7 linked regions of the Homo sapiens genome follow. The protein of the gene in region 3 interacts with the protein of the main gene of each other region in a pairwise test. Each region holds a gene or a part of one and is shown on either strand. Other genes may lie near its edges. The genes, in order: SLC13A3, CDS2, LEUTX, PNLIPRP1, TF, GOSR2 and TSPO.

Evidence for each region.
Region 1: the proteins of LEUTX (region 3) and SLC13A3 interact in binary tests that used the Homo sapiens proteins (3 or more experiments, as listed by UniProt).
Region 2: the proteins of LEUTX (region 3) and CDS2 interact in binary tests that used the Homo sapiens proteins (3 or more experiments, as listed by UniProt).
Region 4: the proteins of LEUTX (region 3) and PNLIPRP1 interact in binary tests that used the Homo sapiens proteins (3 or more experiments, as listed by UniProt).
Region 5: the proteins of LEUTX (region 3) and TF interact in binary tests that used the Homo sapiens proteins (3 or more experiments, as listed by UniProt).
Region 6: the proteins of LEUTX (region 3) and GOSR2 interact in binary tests that used the Homo sapiens proteins (3 or more experiments, as listed by UniProt).
Region 7: the proteins of LEUTX (region 3) and TSPO interact in binary tests that used the Homo sapiens proteins (3 or more experiments, as listed by UniProt).

The regions. Positions count from the first base shown.
Region 1 is NC_000020.11:46,648,660-46,652,736, reverse strand, and holds the start of SLC13A3 (Na(+)/dicarboxylate cotransporter 3), read left to right. Parts: upstream 1-1,277; 5' UTR 1,278-1,315; coding exon 1,316-1,426; intron 1,427-4,077. UniProt on the Homo sapiens protein: High-affinity sodium-dicarboxylate cotransporter that accepts a range of substrates with 4-6 carbon atoms, such as the citric acid cycle intermediates succinate and alpha-ketoglutarate (2-oxoglutarate), as well as other compounds including N-acetyl-L-aspartate.
Region 2 is NC_000020.11:5,133,508-5,137,007, reverse strand, and holds part of CDS2 (phosphatidate cytidylyltransferase 2), read right to left. Parts: intron 1-3,500. UniProt on the Homo sapiens protein: Catalyzes the conversion of phosphatidic acid (PA) to CDP-diacylglycerol (CDP-DAG), an essential intermediate in the synthesis of phosphatidylglycerol, cardiolipin and phosphatidylinositol.
Region 3 is NC_000019.10:39,781,854-39,784,322, reverse strand, and holds part of LEUTX (paired-like homeodomain transcription factor LEUTX), read right to left. Parts: intron 1-2,469.
Region 4 is NC_000010.11:116,604,459-116,607,958, reverse strand, and holds part of PNLIPRP1 (inactive pancreatic lipase-related protein 1 precursor), read right to left. Parts: intron 2,818-3,500; exon of another isoform or gene 2,574-2,817; coding exon 2,406-2,573; exon of another isoform or gene 1,056-2,405; intron 1-1,055. UniProt on the Homo sapiens protein: May function as inhibitor of dietary triglyceride digestion. Lacks detectable lipase activity towards triglycerides, diglycerides, phosphatidylcholine, galactolipids or cholesterol esters (in vitro).
Region 5 is NC_000003.12:133,752,893-133,756,392, reverse strand, and holds part of TF (serotransferrin isoform 1 precursor), read right to left. Parts: intron 2,799-3,500; coding exon 2,690-2,798; intron 1,899-2,689; coding exon 1,722-1,898; intron 1,031-1,721; coding exon 898-1,030; intron 112-897; coding exon 56-111; intron 1-55. UniProt on the Homo sapiens protein: Transferrins are iron binding transport proteins which can bind two Fe(3+) ions in association with the binding of an anion, usually bicarbonate.
Region 6 is NC_000017.11:46,926,160-46,929,659, reverse strand, and holds part of GOSR2 (Golgi SNAP receptor complex member 2), read right to left. Parts: intron 141-3,500; coding exon 76-140; intron 1-75. UniProt on the Homo sapiens protein: Involved in transport of proteins from the cis/medial-Golgi to the trans-Golgi network.
Region 7 is NC_000022.11:43,154,559-43,158,058, reverse strand, and holds part of TSPO (translocator protein), read right to left. Parts: exon of another isoform or gene 2,121-3,500; intron 1-2,120. UniProt on the Homo sapiens protein: Can bind protoporphyrin IX and may play a role in the transport of porphyrins and heme. Promotes the transport of cholesterol across mitochondrial membranes and may play a role in lipid metabolism, but its precise physiological role is controversial.

The sequences.
Region 1 (4,077 bases), on a different chromosome or scaffold from region 3:
AATAGAAGTGACTCACCCCCCTTAAAAAAAAATAAGAATAACGGCCGGGCGTGGTGACGCACACCTGTAATCCCAGAACTTTGGGAGGCCCGAGATGGGCGGATCATGAGGCCAGGAGTTCGAGACCAGCCTGGCCAAAATGGTGAAACCCCATCTCTACTAAAAATACAAAAAAAAAAAAAAAAAAAATTAGCCAGATATGGTGGCACACGCCTGTAATCCCAGCTACTCAGAAGAATTGCTTGAACCCGGGAGGCAGAGGTTGCAGTGATCCGAGATCGCTCCACTGCTCCCCAGCCCAGCCTGGGTTACAGAGTGAGACTACATCTCAAAAAAAAGAAAAAAAAACCCAAAAATAAGAATAACTCATCAGCAGCAATAACTCTCATTGAGCACCTGCTCTGCCAGACACTGCGCTAATCACATTACATGTGTTATCTCATTTAAACTTCCTAACAACCTTCTTGTCTGGTGTAGACTATTTTTAAAAATTTAACTTTTAAGTTCAGGGGTACATGTGCAGATTTGTTGTATAGGTAAACTTGTGTCATGGGGATTTGTTGCACAGATTATTTCGTCATCCAGGTATTAAGCCTAGTGCCCATTAGTTATTTTTCCTGATCCTCTGTCTCCTCCCACCCTCCAGCCTCCCATAGGCTTCAGTGTCAGTTGTTCCCCTCTATGTGTCCATGTGTTCTCATCATTTAGCTCCCGCTTATAAGTGAAAACATGCGGCATTTGGTTTTCTGTTCCTGTGTTAGTTTGCTAAGGATAATGGCCTCCAGCTCCATCCATGTTCCCGCAAAAAACATGATGTCCTTCTTTTTTGTGACTGCATAGTATTCCATGGTGTAGACTATTATTATCACCACTCCACTTTCAGGCTCAGAGGCTGTTGTTGAAGGCCACGCAGTGAGTAAGTGGCCGTGCCAGGATTTGAACCCGGGTAATAGGAGTACGCGCCTTAATCCTCGCCTTGTCATCCTCAGCCATCTCACAGGCGAGTAAACAGAGGCGAGGAGAGGATAAGCCAGCTGCCCCAGGCCACATTGCTGGGAAGCCAAGAGGCAAGGCCACACTGCCCTGCGGCTGGGGTCCCGTTTGCTAATTCTAGTGCCTAACTTTCTCCAACGTTCCCGGGCCTCTTTCACCCGGTCCCAGGGGCGCAGGCACCACCCTTTTCCTCCAGGAGGAGCAGGGAGAGGGCGGGTTCCCCAGCGCAGTCCCCTCCCCGACCCTCCCCCAGGCTTTAAGCCGGCGCCGGGGCCAGGCGGGGCAGTCCCGGGCCGGCCCGTACCGCCAGGCGATCGCGCTGATGGCGGCGCTGGCAGCAGCGGCCAAGAAGGTGTGGAGCGCGCGGCGGCTGCTGGTGCTGCTGTTCACGCCGCTCGCGCTGCTGCCGGTGGTCTTCGCCCTCCCGCCCAAGGTAACGCCTCCTCCGCCTGTGCGCCCCCGGTCAACCACAGGCGGGATCCTCTTCTCCCAAGCCTCCAAGTTGGGAGACCGCTGAGGTCCCAGTGTAGACAGGCTCCACCAGACCCCCTCGCCTTCCCTCCCTTGCACCTGCCGCGGACCGCTGTGAACGCTCCTAACGCCTCTTCCCTCTTCCCAGCTGCTCCTTAGAGCTTGAGTCCCACCCTGCCTTCTGGATCTCACTTCCATGGGAATAATTTCGTTTCGTTTCAGTGACAGGTTCTCGCCGGTCACCCAGGCTGGAGTGCAGTGATGTGATCATAGCTCACTGCAGCCTCCAACTCCTGGACTTAAGCGATCCTCCTTCCGCAGCCTCCCTAGTGGCTAGAACTACAGGTGCATGCCCAGCTAATTTTTTTTTAATAGAGATAGGGTCTCACTATGTTGTCCAGGCTGGTCTGGAACTCCTGGACTCAAGCAATTCTCCCACCTTGGTCTCCCATATACTGGGATTACAGACGTGAACCACTGTGCCTAGCAGAATTCTTTCTTTCCTGAGCTCTAATTCTGTGCTTGGTGCTGTATTGCACATTTCACGCGACAGTCACAATGAACACTTACTGGGTGCCAAGCTGTGTGACATGGTGCAAGTCACTTAACCTCTCTGAACTTCAGTTTACTCATGTGTAAAAATGGGAGAAATGATAGTGCCCACCCATAGGGCAGCGGTGAATATCAATGAGGCAATATATGTAAATCTCTTATAACTAAACCTTGTACAGAATAAATGCCCAATAAGCAGTGACTGGTCTTTTTCTGCACCAGGTCCTTACGTGATGAGGACGGTAAGATTCATGAGTGCTTACTACGGGTGAGGATTTGCCTTTTGTGTATCACTTTATTTAATCATTTCAACGCGTCTCAGAGGGGAAAGATTATTTGACCCATTTTCCAGAGGAGAAAACCAAGGCTCGGGGAGAGAAAGTGACTTGCTCAGAGTCACACAGCAAGTGACTATGTCGGTATTCAGTCCCCGGCTTGTCAGAATCCAGAACCCTAGCTGTTTTCAGTCTCCCCAAGGAAGTAACCCCTGTAAGATCAAAGGCCGCAGGTGGAGTTCAGGAGTCATAACTGAAATCAACACTAGTGGGGGCTGGAAGGAGATGGTACCACAGGTCCCTTTTGGGTTCTTCACCTGTGCCCTGCCCAGCCCAGCCAGGGCATCATGAGAGGGCACTGGGCTTGTAAGATAAGGCTTCTACCTCCAGGAAGTTGCTTCACCATCTCTCAGTGAGGTATTAAATGTTCACAAAAATAAAAGTAAAGAGGAGGTATAATTTAGTGGTGCATTACCCAGCACCGATCAGCTGAGACCAGGGAGCTTCTCCTGGAAGAAGGAGCCCTCCTTGGGCACATGGAGTAAGAAGGTGACACCAGTGGTTCCAAGGAGACCCAGGGCTAACACACAGCAAGTTCATTAGTGTGGAATTATCTAAGCTATTAGACTTTCTCGACGTGGAAGAGAAAAACACAATAAATGATGGAAGAAGGATGAGGTCACCTTTGCAAAACTCAGCCCACCCCAGGCCACTTTCTGACCTGTGGATCTTAAGATCTTGGACCAATCTCCTTTCCTCTTTGGGTTTTGCTTCCCTGTAAGTGGAGCGATTACACCGCTAGCTTCTGGGATTGATGTGAGAGGTTGAGTAAGGCTTTGTGAAACATCTTTGGTGGAAGTGTGGGTGGCTGAGCCTTGACTGATTGCTGTCTGCGAGGCCATAGGCAGAGCTCTCTGGCAAGAAGAGATAAAACACAAGGTCTCTATTCTCTCAGTAGGGGTCCCGACAGCTTCTCTCTGCTCTGTTCTCTAGCAAGAACATGAACCCAGGAGCAGATCCAAGGGTTAAGGGGCGGGGAGCATTTACTACTTGAGGGGGACTCTTGAAGAAAATGAATACAGATTTACAAATACAGGATTCGGTACGAGGCTTGGGAGAGGTCTGAAGCTTGAGCTTCACAAAGGATCCTCTTCCTATCTGAACTCCAACATGCACAACTGAATGGAAAGCAGGGAGAGATAACAGGGAGAGCCCCTGGGATGTAACTAATCCCTTATGATGGTGCTAAGCCTGATGAAGAAGGTGTTTTATTGAGTGCTTAGCTCTTACCATGTGCTAGGGGCCATGCTAGGAGCTTGTCAGGCTTGTCCCATGTAATGCCCACAACAACCAGAGAGGCAGCTGTTATTTGCATCCCTATTTGACAGGTGAAGAAACGGAAACTCAGCGGGGTTAGGTGACTTGCCTAAGGTTACACAGCTGCTGCAAAGCCAGAATGCAGAGTCTGTACTCCTTTATGTGTGTGTGTGTGTGTGTGTGTGTATGTGTGTGTGTGTGTGTGTGTGTGTGAGAGAGAGAGAGAGATAGGGTCTTGCTCTGTAACACAGGCTGGAGTGCAGTGGCACGATCTTGGCTCACTGCAACCTCCACCTCCCAGGCTTAAGCCATCCTCCTGCCTCAGCCTCCCAAGTAGCTGGGACTATCAGCTCCTGTCACCACACCCGGCTAATTTTTATATTTTTAGTAGAGACGGGGTTTCACTATGTCACCCAGGCTGGTCTCAAACTCCTAGACTCAAGCGATCCACCAGCCTCGGCTACGCAAA
Region 2 (3,500 bases), on a different chromosome or scaffold from region 3:
ACTGGGAGCTACACATGGACACAAAGAGGGGAACAAGAGACACCAGGGCTTGAGGGTGGAGAGTGGGAGGCTGGTGAGGATTGAAAAACTACCCATCTAGTACTATGCTCACTACCTAGGTGACAAAATCATTTGTACACCAAACCTCAGCAATGTGCAATTTGCCCGTGTACCAAACCTGCACATGTATCCCCTGAACCTAAAACAAGAATTGGAAGGAAATGAGAGACAGAAGACTACAAAGGATCTTAAAGTTTAAGCATTATGAAAAAGAGCCAGAATTCTATCACTCCACCCCACCCCCCCAATAATTATTAGGGCAGTTTCAGAACTCCTGAAAGATACAAAGAACAAGATGGATTAGGAGGGACCTAGAGCAAATCCTAACAGGAGGGAGCTCAATTCACAGGGTTTACAATAAGGCAAGCAATAAATCCTGAAATTTGGGAAATCTCAAAGAGTAAAAGACAGATAAGGATTCCAGGAGAGGTAAGGAATTCGGATTTAGGATACTGCAGGCATTTACAATACTGCAGTCCTGAAATGTTGAAGTCTCCAAGAGCAACAAACAGACAACAAACAACAAACAGATAAGGATTCCAAGTCACACCTGGTTAGAATCTGCATCCTGCCCTGGGCACGGGAACAAAGGAATAGGAGATTTCAAGCCTGAGTAACCGAGTCATCTGGGATTTTATCGCAGAAGAAAGAAACTGAAGGAGGGTGGTAAGAGTAGAATGAGAGAATTCAGATTTGAGACAAAGTCAGTTTGTGTGGACTGAAGGGCATGCACCTAGGAATGTCTTGTAGACCACTGAAACCACAGGACTAGCCAGGCATGGACTGTGGAGATATGGCTCTGAGAGTTGCCCACTCAGGGGTTCGGTGTCAATGGCAGACATCCTCTCCACATCAGAGACCCAGGGGCAGAGAGTGTTGCCCGTAAATCCCAAGTCCCAGGAACTCTCAAAACCTCAGCAAAGTCTTTACAGAGAAGCCCCAAGCTGGCCCTATGGAGACCTTAATACAAAGGAGCTTCTGCCAAAGACAACAAATCAAAAAGATGTCTGACTTTGGTAGGACAGGTCAGGTCCTTCCACACAGACAGCAGTGCTCATGAGAACCACAGTGTGGCATGAGGCTGTCCCTGGGGAGAGGCAGGCGGGAGAAAGGAAACTTCACAGAATACCCTTTGCTGCCTACAAATTCTGCACCACAGACTGCCTACTCAAAATAACACCATAAAGTTTAACTTTCTTCAAAAGGTCAGTCAACTTAGTGGGCTCAATGCCATCCCTACTGTTGGGGCAAACAACATGAGAACAAATATCAGTGACTGGCATAGGAAGCTGCCCGGTGGGGACCATACGTGGGGGTGGGGAGGGGGTGCCTCACTATTACCCCAGCCAAGTAACCACCACATGACAAGACTTGGAAGGCAGGAACCCTGCCCAGTGCCAGGAACAAATTAGCATTCTTTCAAGGAGACTTTGGCAAAATTAATAGTGAAGAGTCAGTGTCCGTCTCTTTTCTGAACCAGAGGCAGTATGACACACAAACAGCTGTACTTTTTCACCCCCAACAGCCTCTAGTGCCAGTCCAGAAGGGCTGGGAGACCTTAACAACATAGAATGTAGCTTAACAAACTGTGGAGAGGAATCTCCTCCACCTACGTGGATCCTAGAAAAGATGGAAAAGTGTGAAAACCAGAAACAGTAACACTCAAATCTTTTCAAACAGTTTAAAGGATGATTATCTGCCCTGTGAAATTAGTTACAATGGCCGGGCACGGTGGCTCACGCTGTACCAGCCCTTTGAGAGGCCGAGGCGAGAAGATCGCTTGAACCCAGGAGTTCAATGGTCAACATTTTAAGACCCTGTCTCTATTATAAAATAAGTATGTATATATTTATATATATAAATTCAAAAAAGAAATTAGTTACAAGATTCATTTTAAAAAGAGTTTCTCAAATATATTCAAGATTATATAATTTCTGGCAGTTGTAAGGTTGAGAATAAAGTGAGGGAGGAGAAATGCTTTACATTAGTAGGACAGTGCAGGTTTTATACAATCTTCTTGTTTATCAAACATATTCTGAATGATTTTATCAAGTATTATGTTCCCATATCCATCAGCTGTTAGACTCTCATGCTCATTTTCTACCTTACCAATTTAAATATGCAGTCGGCTGGGTACGGTGGCTCATGCCTGTAATCCCAGCATTGTAGAAGGCCAAGGCAGGCAGATCACCTGAAGTCAGGAATTTGAGACCAGCCTGGCCAACATGGTGAAACCCTGTCTCTACTAAAAATATAAAAATTAGCTGGGTGTGATGGTGGGCGCCTGTAATCCCAGCTACTCGGGAGGCTGAGGCAGGAGAATCACTTGAACTCGGGAGGCAGAGGTTGCAGTGAGCTGAGATCACGCCATTGGACTCCAGCCTGGGCAACAAGAGAGAAACTCCATCTCAAAAAATAAATAGATAAATAAAAATAAAACTCTTAAATATTATTGATTTAAAAAAGATTGTATTATTTCTTTAAATCAGTAGGGAAAAAATTGATTATGTGGAGTCAAAACAGGCAATAAAATTCTGAATAATATCCTTATGAACACTGATAACACCAGCCCCTCTCAGAAATACAGACACCGTCCATAGCAGACCCTACAGTCAGTGAATGTTCTAAAGAGAAGCGTTGAATACTGAATGACTGCTTATTACTAGAACAAATGGTTCTCATGCTAACAGTCATTAACTGGAAAGCATTTCTTCCAAGCACCCTCACCCACTGCCTGGGTAAGGCGCCTTGTGGTCTTCAAGCACTGCGCCGGGAGTGCCTTTCAAGGATACCAGAGTGGCCACTCCCAGGAAAGTGCTCACAAATGTCTAAATCACAGTCATCCGATAACCAGGAAAACTGAAACTAATCAACTTTCTCTATAAAACACATACATTTTTTTCTGCAAAGAGTCTCCACATTTACTCTGAGACCTTTTTAACATTTAACATTTTGAAAGATTTATATAGTATTTTTTTGATTTTGTAGCCAAATAAGAAAAATAGGTAACATTTGGGTATCATATCTATCAATGTTAATCAATAAAGAAGCTTTTAAAGTCTGTAAATTAATTCTATGAGAAAAAAATAAAAAACAACAACCGGGAATTAGAAGACCTTCATAGGCCAGGCGCGGTGGCTCACGCCTGTAATCCCATCACTTTGGTAGGCCAAGGCGGGAGTATCACCTGAGGTCAGGAGTTCGAGACCAGCCTGACCAACATGGAGAAACCCCATCTCTACTAAAAATACAAAATTAGCTGGGCGTGGTGGCATGCCCGTAATCCCAGTTACTCAGGAGGCTGAGGCAGGAGAATTGCTTGAACCCAGGAGGCAGAGGTTGCGGTCAGCTGAGATTATACCATTACACTCCAGCCTGGGCCAACAACAGCGAAACTTCGTCTCAAAAAATAAATAAATAGAAGACCTTCATAATACGAA
Region 3 (2,469 bases):
CCCCAAAAAATCACATTAGTTCATCAGCAATGGATCCAAACCAAGAAGAAATCCGTGATATACCTGAAAAAGAATTCTGAAGGTCAGTTATTAAGCTAATCAAGGAGGCACCAGAGAAAAGTGAAGCCCAATTTAAGGAAATTAAAAAAAAAGATACAAGAAATGAGGGGAGAAATCTTCAGTGAAATAGAGAGCATAAATAAAAAATAATAAAAACTTTAGGAGACAATGGACGCCCTTTTATCCACTAGACCTAAGAAATGAGATAGACAGCAACACAATGACCAAGAACCCAAAAGCAAATGCAATAAAAACAAAGATAAATAGCTAGGACTTTATTAAACTAAAGAGATTTTGCATGGCAAAAGGAACAGCAGAGTTCTAGACAACCCACAGTCTAGAAGAAAATCTTCACAATCTATACATTTGACAAATGACTAATATCCAGAATCTGCAACGAACTCAAACAAATTAGCAAGAAAAAAACCAAACAATTCCATCAAAAAGTGGGCTAAGGACATGAATGACATGAATAGATAATTCTCAAAAGATATACAAATGGCCAACAAACATGAAAAAATGCTCAACATCACAAATGATTAGGGAAATGCAAATCGAAACCACAAGAATGGCCATAATAAAAAAAATAAAAAAAAATAGATGTTGGCGTGGATGCAGTGAACAGGCAACACTTCTACACTGCTGGTGGCAGTGTAAACTAGTACAGCCACTATGGAAAACAGTGTAAAGATTCCTTCAAGAACTATAAGTAGAACTACCATTCGATCCAGCAATCCAACTACTGGCTATCTACCCAGAGGAAAATAAGTCATTATACAAAAAAGATACTTGCACATGTATGTTTATAGCAGTACAATTCGCAATTGTAAAAATGTGGAACCAACCCAAATGTCCATCAATTGAGTGGATAAGCTGTGGTGTGTGTGTGTGTGTGTGTATATATATATATGTATATATATATAATAATTTATGTATAATGTATATAAATTATATTGTATATAATTATATATAATACAAATATTATAATTTATATATATATAATTTATATATATATAAATTATATGATGGAATGCCACTCAGCCATAAAAATGAATTAATGATATTTGTAACAACCTGGATTAGATTGGAGACCATTATTCTAAGTGAAGTAACTCAGGAATGGAAAACCAAACATCATATGTTCACACTCATAAGTGGGAGCTAAGCTATGAGGATGTAAGGGCATAAGAATGACACAATGGACTTTGGGGATTCGGGGGAAAGGGTGGGAAGGGGGTGAGGGATAAAAGACTACAAATATGGTGCAGTGTATGCTGCTCGGTTGGTGGGTGCACCAAAATCTCACAAATCACCACTAAAGAACTTACTCATGTAACCAAACACCACTTGTTCCCCAATAGCCTACGAAAATACAAAAAAAAATTTAAAAATGTTTTATTAGAATGCAAATATGTATATTCCAAAGGTAAGCTTCTTTCCTAAGCTTGACCTGTGAATCAAGAGCTTAGGCTAAACATTTGACTCACGAGACCCACTCCTCACTCTCTTGCTGGGAGTGTTCTGCATTCCTAGAAAATCAGTGCCAACTTCCACTGAGCAGGACATGTTTTTAAGCCACAGATGGGATAAGCTTATTTTGGTGGCCTCATCCTACAGCCCCTGGAGGAGGAACATCAACCTCTCCATGACATTGGGCACCAATATGTTTTCCTAGCAACTTGGGGACATCTTTCTGTTTCTCATGCTGCTAATAAAGACATACCTGAAACTGGGTAATTTATAAAGGAAAGAAGTTTAATGGACTCACAGTTCCACATGGCTGGGGAGGCCTCACAATCATGGTGGAAAGCAAGGAGGAGCAAAGCCACATCTTACGTGGTGGCAAGCAAGAGAGGGAATGAGACCTAAGCAAAAGGGGAAACCTCTTATAAAACCATCAGATCTTATGAGACTTATTCATTACCATGAGCACCGTATGGGGGAAACCGCCCCATGATTCAGTTATCTCCCACCGGATCCTTCCCACAACGCATGGGAATTATGGGAGCTACAATTCAAGATGAGATTTGGGTGAGTCCTTATTGAGATAGAATAGAATAGTGGCATGATGTTGACACCAGGTTTATATGAGTCTATAAGATTCATAAGAGTATTTGAGGCCCTATTATCCTAACCGGTCATAGACTCAGTGGCACTGCTGTCTATGTTGATTGGCTTGTGAGACCCTGAAGCTATTGGTTTGGCCATTTATTAATGGGGTCTGTAGGGAAGGAGATATGAAGCTTAGTGACCTAAGAATGAATGTCGATTCTCTCATTTACTAGCTCTGTGACTTTGGCAGCATCAGTACACTTATACTGTTTGCCTCCGTATCTTTAACAATAACATGGTCCCAGAAAGCTCACTCCTTTAGGGAAGATGTGAGTAACCAAAGAAGCAAGTCTGTTA
Region 4 (3,500 bases), on a different chromosome or scaffold from region 3:
TCTTGAACCCAGGAGGTGGAGGTTGCAGTGGAGCTGAGATCATGCCACTGTACTCTAGCCTGGGCAACAGAGCGAGATTCCATCTCAGTCATTCTCCCACGACTGTTGAGAATTCCATGATAAGAACGTAACATCCCATGATGGTAAATGTAAAAAGTCTTACAATTAACAAAAAACAATGCAGATGTAAGCAGTTATTTTTGTGGTTGTTCAAGAACCACGGACTTCTCTCAGGCCTCACCACCTGTGAGCTCGGAAGCTTTGCCCCATTTCCTCACTGGTGTTCCTTGGCCCCTTCCCACTTTCTCTTCTGTGTTTCATTTTTTCTGCCAAGAAGCCCTAACTTGGCATCGGAGGCCTCCGATCATATTCCCTGCACTTGGGCCCTGTCGCCCCTCATGCACTTGGACCTGTTGCCCTGCCCCTGTGCCCTTCCTCCCTCCTACTCCCTGCCTCATCCTGAGAGCTGCCCTTCCTTCCATCACAGCCTCCCCGCGGCCCTCTGCTTTCCTCCTTGGCCACTGTCTTTCTGAGCCTCTCCTGGGAGTTCTTTATTTGGTCTTTTGACCTTCCCTGTGAACCATAAGTCTGATTTTTCTCAACAGCTGAACTGTAAGCTCCTTGAGTGTAGGCTCAGTGTTTGCATCCCTTACTGTTTGCCAGGCCATACAATAGGTACTGAATAAAGTCATTTGCAAGGGTACATTTACCAAAGGTACTTAATAAAGAGAGGGGGACGGAGAAATAAAGAGGGGGAGGGCTGCCTTTCTCTTTGGATACTGTGTCATTGGAGGGAATCCTAGTCGGCAGATTCCTTAGTAGGAATTGAAACCCCAATGAGGTTACTAAAAAATATGAGGGGATTCTGAGAAGAGCTTGGACCAAAATCTTGATTTTCTTTAGCTTCTTCATTATTATTATTATTATTATTATTATTAAATGTTACTGGCCATTTTCATAACAGGAAAATGTTTGAGTAATTCAACTAATTCAGTGTTTTTACTTCCCAAACTAGTTTGAGAGATTTGAAGCTGTTTTGACTTTCCTCTGTTTAGAAAACCTGATGTCTTATATCCAGCTGCTCTTAAGAAAGAGTCTTTCTGGAGCAGACAGCGAGGGGAGCTGCACTCAGCCACTGGAATGCAGGTGACAGCTGATGGGCACAGGACCTCAGGTGCAGCCTTAAGTATGTTCTGTTCCATTTGCAGAAAGTTCAGAAAGCCTCAGCCTTTCCTCAGAAAACCTGGAAGATGCAATGCCCTGGCTGATTTGGACTTGTATGCCTTACCTGTGAGCAAGTCATCTCCTGGGAACACCTCTAATTTTTAAGATTCCAATGATGCCACCACCTGACATGTTTTTAACCACACAGTCCCAGGATCCAGGCCATGGGATGCTTGCTAATGGGGCCTTGGGGAGCTGAATTTAGAGGCTGAGTATCCTCTGATGGGGTCAGGGAGGAAAGGATTTGGTTGCACCTCCAGCTTGCACAGGGCTCCCGACCAGCCCGGCCCAGCCTCCTCTGTACTATGCTCTAGCTTATGAGGCCTCCTGGTTCCACCCACCACCTGGCAGGGCCAACCTCTTTGTTCTCCTTGCCTCGTGGGGATAAGGAGAACCTCACTAAGTCATCCAGTTCGAGGAGACCCAGATGTGGAGTCAGCCCCCATTCTACTCTGCCACCCCACCCTCCCCACCTGGGGGAGTGACAATCTCTGGGACCTGAACTCGGTGACTCCACCTAACCCCAAACTTCAAGAACATCGGTGGCTGAGAGCCCAGGATCTCCTTCCCACAAAGCCACATGTTCTACTAGCCAGACTTGGGGTCTGAGGTTTGAGAGACAGTCGCTCTGCCCTCTCAGGTCACCACTCCAACTTTCCTCCAGCCGTCCCTTTTTCCTACCCACGGCCCTGTGCTTATTCAGGCCCAAAGCCAGGGAGACCACAGGTCAGGATCTCACAAGTATTGCAATCCTAGTGCATTCTTGTCCTATGTAAAATTTTCGATCTTTTCCTAAAACCGATTTATTTTCCGTTTTATTATCCTGAAATGTAATTGGTCTTCTCCTCTTTCAAGTATAGCTATTCACTAGCCCATACTTATAAACTTGTACCCTTCAGAAAGGATTTCTTGTTCTCTTTCTTGTATTTTCTCATTTTACCTTGAAAGTGCAGCCTTATCTTCTGTATTCCCACAGGCAGTGCTGAGAACACCCAATAAGGTGCACCCAACAGAAACATTTTATGCTGTTTGTCAGTTGCTTGTTTGGGGAGAAGGGGCCACAGATGGGTAAATTTTCTTGGCTTTTCTTGCTTAACTACACGTAACTTTCTAGGGTGGGTTTTCATTATAACATGAATCTCTGCAAACATTTTTAGGCACCAGCCAGCAAAGATACATACACTGTCTTCTCTTCTCCCTTTTGCACAGTGATCTTGGTGGCACCCACTTTGGGGAGGGTTGGATTTATCACATTGTTATTCCAAAGAAACTTGACTTTCTCAATTGTTCCAACATCCAGCTTTGCATCAAACTCATAGGAATGGGTTGAGCCTGGTTTGAGAATCCCCCTTGAAATAGAGAAACATAAACATCCCTGTTCACGGAAATGAGTTCTAATTACCATACAATGCCAGGCTGCTGTTTTCTCTTCTAGATTAACAGGATTATTTTTCCGAATTAATTTCCAAATAAAGGATGGAGAAATGGAAAAGCCAGCTATATGCTAGCACCTCAAACTATGGTTTTTAAAACTCAAGTTAATTTTTCCTTAAAGCTTTCTAATAGAAAATAAAATAGAATTCCTGCATATCATTTTATATGTTTTGGAAGAATTATTTGTACAGTAACAAATTGGCCACATAGTATGGCACAATAAGCATGTGTTATTGCACTAATCAGAAAACAGCATATCTGAAGTAATATTAGATTTATGTTTAAAAAAACATCTATTAAGAGAAAGAGGCCGGGCATGGTGGCTCACGTCTGTAATCCCAGCACTTTGAGAGGCCGAGATGGGTGGATCACTTGAGGTCAGAAGTTCGAGACCAGCCTGGCCAACATGGCAAAACGCCCCCCATCTCTACTAAAAATACAAAAATCAGCCAGGTGTGGTGGCACATGCCTGTAATCTCAGCTACTTGGGAGGCTGAGGCACGAGAATTTCTTGAACCCGGGAGGCGGAGGTTGCAATGAGCCAAGATCGTGCCACTGCACTCCAGCCTGGGTGACAGAGCAAAGACTCTTTCTCAAAAAAAAAAAAAAAAAAAAAAAAGAGAGAGAAAGGACGAAATGCCTAGGTTTATAACAGAAAAGAAAAATTATTAGCAGAAGTCTGCAATTAACATCAGTACATAAAGTTATATAGTCCTGCGTTGCTTAACAATGGAGATATGTTCTGAGAAATGTGTCCTTAGGTAATTTAATCATTGTGTGGACATCATAGCATGTACTCACACAAACGTAGATGGCACAGCCTACTACATACCTAGGCTGTA
Region 5 (3,500 bases), on a different chromosome or scaffold from region 3:
AAAAAGAACACCCACTACTTGGAGTGGCCCTGGTGGATTCTTGTCCCATTCTTACCAAATATAGTCGAGTGCTTGACAAAGGCCACATCCCCAGCACCATCCTTCAGACACCTGGGTCAAAGAAACACATCAGCAGGGCTCCTGCAGGGCAGGCCCTTCTCCTGCACCTGGAGAGTCTGATCACACTGTCCAGCACTCACACTAGGATAGAGCCTGGTGCAGCCCCGTAGCTGAAGCAACACCATGGTGTGCAGACCTCCAGCGTAGTGCTGAGATGGGGGAATGAGCTCACACGAGATAAAAAGCCCTCATAACCCAAAGAAGCAAAATGCAACTGAAGATATTTTCATGTGAAAAGAGCTTTTAAACTTCTGGAATAGAAGATAATGGTATAGTGTCTCCTGAGGGTGAAAATGTGCCTTTGGCTGGTTGTAAAACTTTAGGATATAATCAAGGTAAAAAGAGAAAGCAAGAAATCAGCTTCCCAGATAGAGACGGTGATGGGGGCAGGAGACAGGCAGTGTGCTGAGCAGGTAACACTGCTGAGATTGAGGGAAGAGGGCCAGTCCCTGGACAGTGGGCCCAGACACTAGAGGCATGATTGTCCTTTCAGGCTCTGCCCGATCCACCGAGAGGAGACACTGACCAGGCTTGAGGGCTCTGGGGAGAAAGGAAGGGTCCCCAGGAAAAGGACCTACTTGTCAGGGTCAGATGAAAGGGAACATGGGCTGGCTTGGCCTAGGAGTCCCAGGTTGTGCTTCTGACTCACTGGGAGGGGATTAGGCCACCTCGATGCCCCTGTAGGCAGGCAGGGCTCGGCTTTGGACCAGCAAAGAACTCTCACCCTGAGGACATTTGGCACTTTGGCCACCATGGAGCAGCAGACATCTCACTCACTTGAAGGCTCCCGAGTAGCCGAAGTATTGGTTAAGGGTGGAGCAGCCACACCCTGGACACAGTTGACACAGCTGGGGGAAGTCCGTCCCATCCGCACAAGGGGCACAGCTGCCCGAGAAGAAATTGGCCACTGCTGCTCAGCACAGAGAAATGGACAACAGAGCATGAGTGAGGCTGGCCACAGCCAATGGCATCACCCCACCCAGGCCCATCAGGGAACAGAGGGGACTAAAACCAAACCAGCACATGCAGCCCCAGCTTGCCCTTATGCTAACTCATCAAGATCAAGGATTTCTAATAGGAACAAGTTGACCTCTGTCTGGCCACCATCCATCAGAGGAAACAGGCCTATGCTTCCCACTAACCAAGGCCTATCTCGGGTCTTTCTCAGAGCACCTTCTCCCTGCTTTGTCAGAGGCTGGAACAGCTCAGAGAGAGGTCCCCTCTGGGATCCATGCCCCAGACATGAGAACTGCTTAAGAGAGGTGCAGGGCTCCAGAGAAACCTCCAGGAAAGAAATCCAGAGAAGTGGACAAGAGAACCACCATCGCCTAGACTGAAACCCTCTGCCGAGCCTTGCGCCCTTTCCTCACTCATCAGAACAGCCTCTGCTGGGGTTTTGGAAGCTCAGAGCAGAAAAAAGCTCAGCTCCACCTCCCAAGTGCTGCTGGTGCAGCAGACCTGCCAGTTTAAAGTCTGTTAACCTCTTTCCCCCACCTGAGTTCATCCCACATGTCTGCTGATGGTGACTGTCTAGTGCAGCCTGTGTGGGCATCTGGAGCAGAGGCAGCTGCTCGAGGGCACCCAGACTCCTGCCAGCTTACCTTTCTCAAGAGGTTTACGTGGCTCAGGTAAGTCACAGTAAAGTAAGCCTATGGGGATGTTCCACCCAGCGGACCTGCCTAGACCCGTGTGGCAGGACTTCTTGCCTCGAAGCTGGTTCATCTGGAAGCCACTATCCTTCTTCACCACAGCAACAGCATAATAGAAAGTCTGTGGATCTGCAAAGGCACAGTGTGAATGGAAGGCCCTCAGCCTGGTGCAGGGAAACATGGCTCATCACCACCGGACTCTTGAGGAGGGAGGGGAGCGGAGAGGCCATGCTTTTACTGGACTGGGCGATAAGGAGTGGGGAATCAGGAAAACCTTCCTAGGGTTGCAGGGGAGAGAGAAGACCATAGAAGGAATATTTATAATATTACCCCTCCAGGCAAACAGGGGCAAGAAGGCCACACGCACATGTGTCCTGAATGCTTTGCCTCCCCTGGCCCTGCAGCGTGTCTGCCTACACCTACCAACCTCAGCCACCAGGAAACTGGAGCTGTGGTAACAGAGGCCCATCAAAGTATTTCATGTCCCCTGGCACAGGCCCAGAGACAGTCAGGTTGATCTCAGAAGACTTGCAGGGCTGCTGGCCTCTGAGTGTGTGCTCCAGAGTGACCCCTCCTGTGTGAGTGGTACCTATGGCTCCAGAGGCCTCCAGGGACCCTAGACATATCAGTAGACCGCAGTAGCCTTCAGGTCAAGCTGCACACAGCCTGCTGTGTTTCTCTGATAAGCATATGCCCCTGGCCCAGGGCTCAGTTTTAGGAGCACCAGTCCTCAGCCAGCCCAAAGCCCCCAGAGGCCTTGATGTGTGGCTGTGGCAGCTGACAGGGCCCCTCATTCTCTACTCACTCTCCAAAGATGAATGTTCATTATATCTGATATCCAAAACCTGCCTGTAAAACACAGCACTCAGCATATAGAATAAGGATGACAACTCCTTCCTGGGGTCCCAGGGAGAACTTACCCTCTTTTGACCCATAGAACTCTGCCACCACAGGCTTCAGGTTATTGGGAGCCAGGTAAGCATCATACACCAAACCTGCATCCAGTGTCACAGCATCCGCTTCGTTTGCCTGAAAGAGAACAGGCCAGTCCTGGATGAAGCCTTGACTTCCAAGGAAGGCCCACCTCAACCCACACAAGTAGAGAGTGGCTACCAGGACTCCACGGACCCAGGGCCAGAACTTGACTAGACCACGCACAGCCCTGCTGGCTTCAGTTGACTCTGTCTCCCTCGCAAGGGCACTTAGCCACCACATTCCTATTCCTTCTGCATAGAGGGAGTGATGGATTGTGTTTCTCTTTTCCCCGGTGAGGTGCCCAGCTCCTGGCCAAAAATCCTACGTGACTTTACCGTAGGCAATTACGAAGGCTTAACCTGGCAGGCTCCGTGGGAGAAAGCCGCCCTCGCCACCCCAGACTCAGAGCACAGCCAGTGCAATGCAGTCTCTGGAGGGGACTCTGCTGTCAAGGACACAGCTCTCTTGGGCTGGCCACGCTCTTCTTACACCTGTTTTCATTCCTAGCCCATGACCTTTGCTCAGAGCCCTCTTTATTTTGAGACTTCCTTTGAGGTCTTCCTCAGGTGCTTCTGTGGAGATTTTTTTTCTGGGGGAAGATGGGAACCTTGAAAACATTCGTCTTCACTCTGACTCAGTACTCAATGCTCTTCCTTCCTGTCCTGGGTCCATAAAACTGCATGACCCTTTTGCTGAGGGATTGGGCACTTTCTCTGGGTTTAGCTTCTTGGTGATACTATGTACTGAATGATCAAA
Region 6 (3,500 bases), on a different chromosome or scaffold from region 3:
TGCAGTCAGGAAGCCCAGCCCATTAGCACCCTGTCATCAGAGAAAGGACTCTGGTCTCCACAGTTAATTACTCACTGTGCACAGACTGCTTGTCTGCCGTCTCCAGGCGTCCCATGCAAGACTGGATCTCGTGGACCTGCCTATCAAAGGAAGAGGGAGGAAATGAGTGAGACAGGAGTAATCAACAGCGCTTCAGTCAGGAAAGACAATTTTTCTGATGCCAACATGTAACTGATTTAAATCGACAGCATCACTGAACTGTAAAATTTGTATGTGGCACTTTAGGTCCCACGTTTTGGCATGGTTTCTAATATCTTAACTACTAACAATAACACTGATAGGCAGATTATGGGTGCTTACCATATCCAAGATACTCTGCCAAATCAATAACCCTATGAGGAAAGTACCATTATCATCCTCATTTTATAAAAACTGAAGCCCAGAAAGGTTATGTAACTTGTTCAAGATCACACAGCAAGTGATAAACCTCAAACTGAACCCGGCCAATCCTACTTTCTGTTCTACGACCTAATGTGCTAAGCACTGGCCTGTACCAGGAAGAGTCAAAGGGCGAGGGAGATATAATCCTTGTCCTTGAGAAACAACATAATGAGGAATGACAGGCTAAACAGACATGAACAAGCCCTGGGAAGATTCACGAGAAAAGCAATACACATAAGTATAAACAAACAGAAAGAGGGGCAGCTCTGCACAGTGGTGTCACAGGCAAGCAGACAGAGGGGTGGGGCTGAGAAAGAGAAACCAGGTAAGTTATGTGGATGGAAAGAGTTCTGAGCATCGCTGTGAAGAAGGGAGACATCATTTGGTGAAGGAAGATAGAAGAAAATGATATGCAAAAATTCATTCAAGACATGTGGATTACAAGTAGGGTGGGCTGCTTGAAAGGGAATCGGGTTGGGGGAGAGGATGCTGAAGTGACTCACTGGAGGAAACCATTCAGAGGAAGACCCTGAGACAGGGACCTTCTGTTTGGTAAACATCCTTCTCCGACAATATCAAGGAACGAAGGAACTGCCATCTCATTTGGAAATGCAACACTGTACCCTGGATCTGGGTAACACTCTCTGGAGGCTTCCCACGGTCTGGCCAAGGTCATCCTTAAGACCCCCTTCCTAATGGTCCTCCATGATCAGTCCTCGGGATACTGCTTATGCTGGCCCCACCATCCACTTCCCGGTGCTCACGGTGGAGATTTCCCCAAGTTAGGGCCCACATGAAGGGGGCCTGCTGGACTCTCACATCATCCCCAACGCTGGAGGAAAGGTCAGCAACCATTCTGCATCGTGAGCAATGCAAACCAGGACCCCAAATCTACCAATGCCAGCCAGGCACCCAACTTTGGCTTCAGCTTGTGCCCAGTCTTTTCCAGGGCTTCCCTATGGCCTCCAGATATGCCCTCGGGCACCAAAAGAAGCTGGGTGAGCTGTCAAATGACTCCCCAGGGTGCTCCTAGGCAAGACCTGTGGCCCTGAGAAGCAACTAGAAATCACTGCTAGAGTCCGAGACCAGGCCGTTGCTTCCGGAAAGTAAGTCTGGGATATTGTGGGATGATGCGGGGGTGTGGAGGTATGGGGGCTGATGTAGGAATGCAGCCTGAGGTAGCCGACACCTGAAGCAGGGCAACCAAGGGAACAGGTACAGGGGACCGGAGGGTAACGGGGACAGAAAGGAGAATTAGGACTCTAAGGAAGTCCTGACGCAGGCTGTGAGGTAAATTTTCAATGCTGATTTAACAGAAAAATCTGAAAGTTGGTAATATGATCAACACGAACAGTGACATAATAAAAAGGGGGGAGGTAAAGAATAGCCAAGACCACTCTGAAGAAGGAGGGGGAGGAATGACTTGTCCCACCTGCCATTATGACTTACAAAGCAGTAACAATGGAAACAATATGGCGGCAGTGCAGGTGCAGACAGACAAGGAAAGGCAAACCCTACAGCTGGCCCAAGAGGAAAGAAACAGCCTAGACACAGCCCCACGTTATTTGGGAGCTTTTGAAAGAAGGGACTACAATAAATGCCAACAGCTCCGGTTTGTTACCCGTACAGAAAAAGGCCACCTCAGGTAACACATAAAAATAAACTCAAGCTCACTTAAAACCCAAATGGAAAAAGCAGAGCAGCTTTCAAACTTTCTGAAGAAAATACAGGTGTGCATAAATGACCTCGGGTTACAGAAGATTTCTTAAATAAGACAAAATCCAAAAACTACCCACCCCCACAAAACCCACAAACCACAAAGAAAAAGATGGATACATCTGACAACATGAAAACAAAAAACTTCTGTACACCAAAGCCACAAAATAAACAAATGAATGGCACAGACTGGAGGGTATCTGCAGCAGATAACAAAGGATTGACGTGCAGAAAATATATAAAGAATTGTTACAAATCAATACAAAAAGTCAAACAAGGCATTTTTTTTAAATGAAAAAAGGGCAAATGACAGAAAAGAAAACCCAAATGGTCAATCAATATACAAAATGACACTCAACTAGGAAAACACAAATGAAAAGCAATGAGATCACATTTCTTCAGCCCATCAAACTGACAAATATTTTAAAGTTTGGGGACATATGCATTAATAAGGAAACAGGGAAACTAGAACTCTCATACCCAGCTGGTAGGATTATAAATTGGTAAAACACTTTAAATGCTTTCTGACAATAACTAGTAGAATAAAGCATGTGTCCATGCTATGACCCAGCAGTTTGAGGAATGTGTCCTAGAGAGGTTCTGGCATACCCTGAGGAGATGTACATGGCAGGACGTTCATCAAAGCACTTTTGTACAGGCCCATAATCCACTGACTTTTCCCATCAAATCTCTATTTGCTTTGAACCAATCAGAGACAATGTGGCCAATAATACAATTCCAGCGGCTACATTTCATGCTAAGAAAACATAAATATGAAACAACAAAGCAAGTATGAATGGCAAGGTGGGAACTACTAATATGCCAAGTGCAAAATCTGTCTCAAACTGAACTGGGAATTCTAACACAACATAACACACTGGAAGTCCATAAGAAACAGGTGATACACAAGCATGACTTGGGAGCGTGGACATGAGGAAAAAGAAGTCTTAGCCCTCTCTAGCATGGGGTCCATGGTGGGCTTGGGTGATAATATAACAAAGCAGAGAAATAGTAGCAAATAAGCCAGGGTCATTGTAGCCGTCTTTAAAAAAGGTTTACAGAAGATCTAGGAAGAATTTTTTAATGGAAGTGCTTTTTAAAAGTTCATGAAACTACTCACCGCCCCCCACCACCCCATAACATCCACTTTGCATCCAGGCTGCCTCTGACCATGATGAACATGAAAACGCTGTGTAACCTACACAGCATCATGTAAGTTTGTTGTTAACTTTACTTAAAAGTAGTGGCAACAATCTGGTCATTTTCATTTCACTCACTTTGCCTTTACATTTCGCTCATTAAAGGGCAAAATCTATAAAGGAAAAACATGGTCTTGAGATAAG
Region 7 (3,500 bases), on a different chromosome or scaffold from region 3:
GCTGGCCTGGGATCCATGGAGCTGGGTGAGCACAGAAGCAACCTCAGTGCCCAGCAGCCAGGGACTATTAAAGACTGGCCCCCCACAAACCAAGCTTCTGAAGGCTTTCTAGTAACGAGAAAGTTGTTCTCAACATAACACGAAGAAAGCAGAATATAACATTGACTACAGAATGACCCCAATTTTGGCAAAAAATGGATAACATAGATATGCGCTTTTTTTGAGACAGAGTCTTGCTCTGTTGCCCAGGGTGGAATACAATGGCGCGATCTCAGCTCACTGTAACCTCTGCCTCCCAGGTTCAGGGGATTCTCCCGTCTCAGCCTCCTGCCTCCCAAGTAGCTGGGATTACCAGCATGTGCCACCATGCCGGGCTAATTTTTGTATTGTTAGTAGAGACAGGGTTTCACCATGTTGGCCGGGCTGGTCTCAAACTCCTGACCTGAGTTGATCTGCCTGCCTCAGCCTCCCAAAGTGCTGGGATTACAGGCGTGAGCCACCGCGCCCGGCACGTTTTAAAGGAACAGAGTGTCAGGCATCCAGCAGATTCCGGTGCTGCCACTTACTATGATTCCCTCCCCTCCCTGGACCTCAGTTTTCTCGCCTGTTGAATGGGGACAGTTACCCCATCCCCCAAGGTCGCTGCAAAAATGAGCAGTAAGGATGGACATTCTGGGGGGGTGGGCATGTGACCTATGTCCCGGCAAGAAACGTTCCTGTGTTCTCCCTCCCGCTCCCTCCTGCCCCGCCCCTCCCTCCTGCCCCGCCCCGCCCTCCTGCCCCGCCCTCCAGCTTCCAGGGTACACGTGCTCATGGGGTGGGGATGGGGGTCTGATGTCACTACACATATGAAAGGCCACCCTCCCTGGGGCAGGAGGTACTGCTGAGCACTGGCCCTGCACCACCGCCAAGTGGATATGGAGCTCTGGACCACAGCCCTGGGACCACCTCCCAGCTCAGCCTCCCACTACATCCTCTCAGGTAAGCCCAGGCCAGCTCAGCCTACTGCTCATCTGGGCAACCAAGACATAACCGCTGCTCTGCTGGAGCCTGCGTGAGTCCACAGCTGAGTGACATTGTGGGGGAACCATAAGGAGCCTCGTTCAGCCTCCACTGGAAACGAGCCGGACCAGGGTGCCTGTACGTGCCTTTTCCCAGGACACCCTCAGTTGAGGCCCACCTGCCCCACACTAATGGCCTGCTCTCACTCACAGGTGTCCCTGTCCAGGCGAGCAAGGTTAATACCACCAGCATAAGACACGTGGACATCCCGAACCCCTTGATACGACATGGAAGCTGGTGCGCTTTCAGTGATGTTCATGCCACAAATGGAAACCCCCAGTGCAGGCGTGAGCCACCGTGCCCAGCCTAAAATTAACCGTTTTAAAGTGCACCATTCAGCAGCATTTGTATATTCCCAATGTTGTGCAACCACCCTCTGTATCAAGTTCCAAAGCATTTTCAACCCCTAAAAGAAACCCCGTATCCATCAGCAGTGGTTCCCCTCCCCCTCCCTCCCACCCCTGGCCGCCAGCAATCTGACTTCTCTCTGGGGACTTGCCCATCCTGGACATTTGGTATCAATGGAATCACGCAGTGTGTGGCCCTCGTGTCTGGCTTCCTTCACTGAGCGCCATGTTCTAGAGGTCCTCACCTTGTAGCACGTGGCAGAACTCCCCACGATTCTGTCACCTGGCTCCAGCACCCAGCCAGGGCCAGGCACACACTCGGTCCCCAGGAAATCACAATGGGACTCACCCAGTGTTCCCACTGACAGGGCCTTAGAGACCACCATCCAGGTCCCCCGTTGTATGGAACGAATAAAAGTCACAGAGGCATGGTGGCTTTCCCAAGGCCACAGCAAGAGAGCAGGGTCTGAAGCCAGTTCTGAGTCCCGTGCTCACACTCCCACCCCAGGCTGCCCCCTTCTCAGGCCTGGCTGTGGTTATGACCCACAGGGCCAAGGGGCTCAGAGGGTCTGCCCCACCAGAAAACAGGCGGTCAGATGCCCCACAAGGAGAAAGCCTGGTCGGGGGCGGGGAGTTTCCTAGGGCCTCTGGGGAACTGCCCAGCTCCTGAATTGCCCAAATGGGGAACAGGTGGGCAGGGGCGGTACCCACCATGATGAGTCATGCTGAGCCAGGCTAGGCAGGATCCAGATATCTGCTCTGGGATGAGTCCAGGGAAAGCTGGGGTGGGCCAGGCCAGGGGGCACACATGGCAGGGACAGGACTCAGGCTCAGGCAGAGGGGTGAAGCCACCTATACACCCTTTATTTGTCTCCTTCAGAAAGCGAATCGGGATCCAGACCTCGGCTCTGCCTCCATCCAAGGCTCGTCTCTGGGCCTGGCTTCCTCCAACGTCAGGTGGGTAAACCCGCTGTGTCTGCTTCTTGGGGGGCTGGGGTAGCTCAAGGGAGGAAGGGGTGGGACAACAACGTTTCCCTGAAAACTCCAGAGAAGAGAGGGGTTGTGGGTATCAGTGTGGGGCCACTAGCCCCATTTCCTCCAGGGGAAGACAGGGCCTCAAGGCTTGGACCTGTGACGAGACCTTATCAGCCACGAGAGCCCCTGGACACTCCACAGGTGAAAATGCCCTGCACGGAGCAGCGCCCCCAAAACAGGGGCAAGATCGGGGCAGGGTAGAGGGCGCAGGACGTAGAGGCAGGAGAAGGTTCCAAGCCTTGCTCAGCTCTGGTTGTGCACAGGCCTCTGGTAGGCAGGGGCCTGCGTGGTGGAGTCCGTGCTCATCCCGACGGTCACCGCCTTGTTCAGTCCCCACAGCAGCCACAGGGGACCAGCTGCTTCTCCCTGAGCCACACGGCCCACTCGGCCTCCATGGTGGACTCGTGACTGGTCCCATTTTCCAGATGAGGAAACTGAGACATGAGAAGTCACAGAACTTTCTAGGTCCGAGTGACTCCAAAACCCACCCCACCCCTCCCTTTGAGCTGGGTGTCTGCCGGGCTGCTCTGGGCCGCGTGACCACTTGCCAGGAGTTGTGTCACCGCCCGTCTCAGCCTCCTTCCTCATCTGAAACAGGGCTCATAGAGCCTGCGGCGCCAGGATTGGACCCGCAGGCCACTCCACCCCACCTCTGAACGGTGCCAGAAGGTTCTCTCAGGGCCAGTAGCATCACTCTCTCCACCTGCCGCGGCAACATCCCAGCCCCCACAGAGCATCGGGCCCTGCAGAATCTGAGCCCTTCCCCACTGAGGGTGGGACCCAGGGTCTCCAGGTCTTGTGAGGCTTCACTCCTGGCCCGAAGACCCCAGACCCATCGCTGCCCCAAGGTATCTCATCTCCTGAGCCTCTGTGTCCCCATCTATGAGGTGGTGGTCGAGCCAGTGGGTTTCAGGGTGTCTTTCTGTTCTTGGAGACCTCCCTATAGGTGACCCAGAAGGCCAGGAACGGTGGCTCACACCTGTAATCTCAGCACTTTGGGAGGCTGAGGCAGGCAGATCACCTCAGGTCAGGAGTTCGAGACCAGCCTGGCCAACA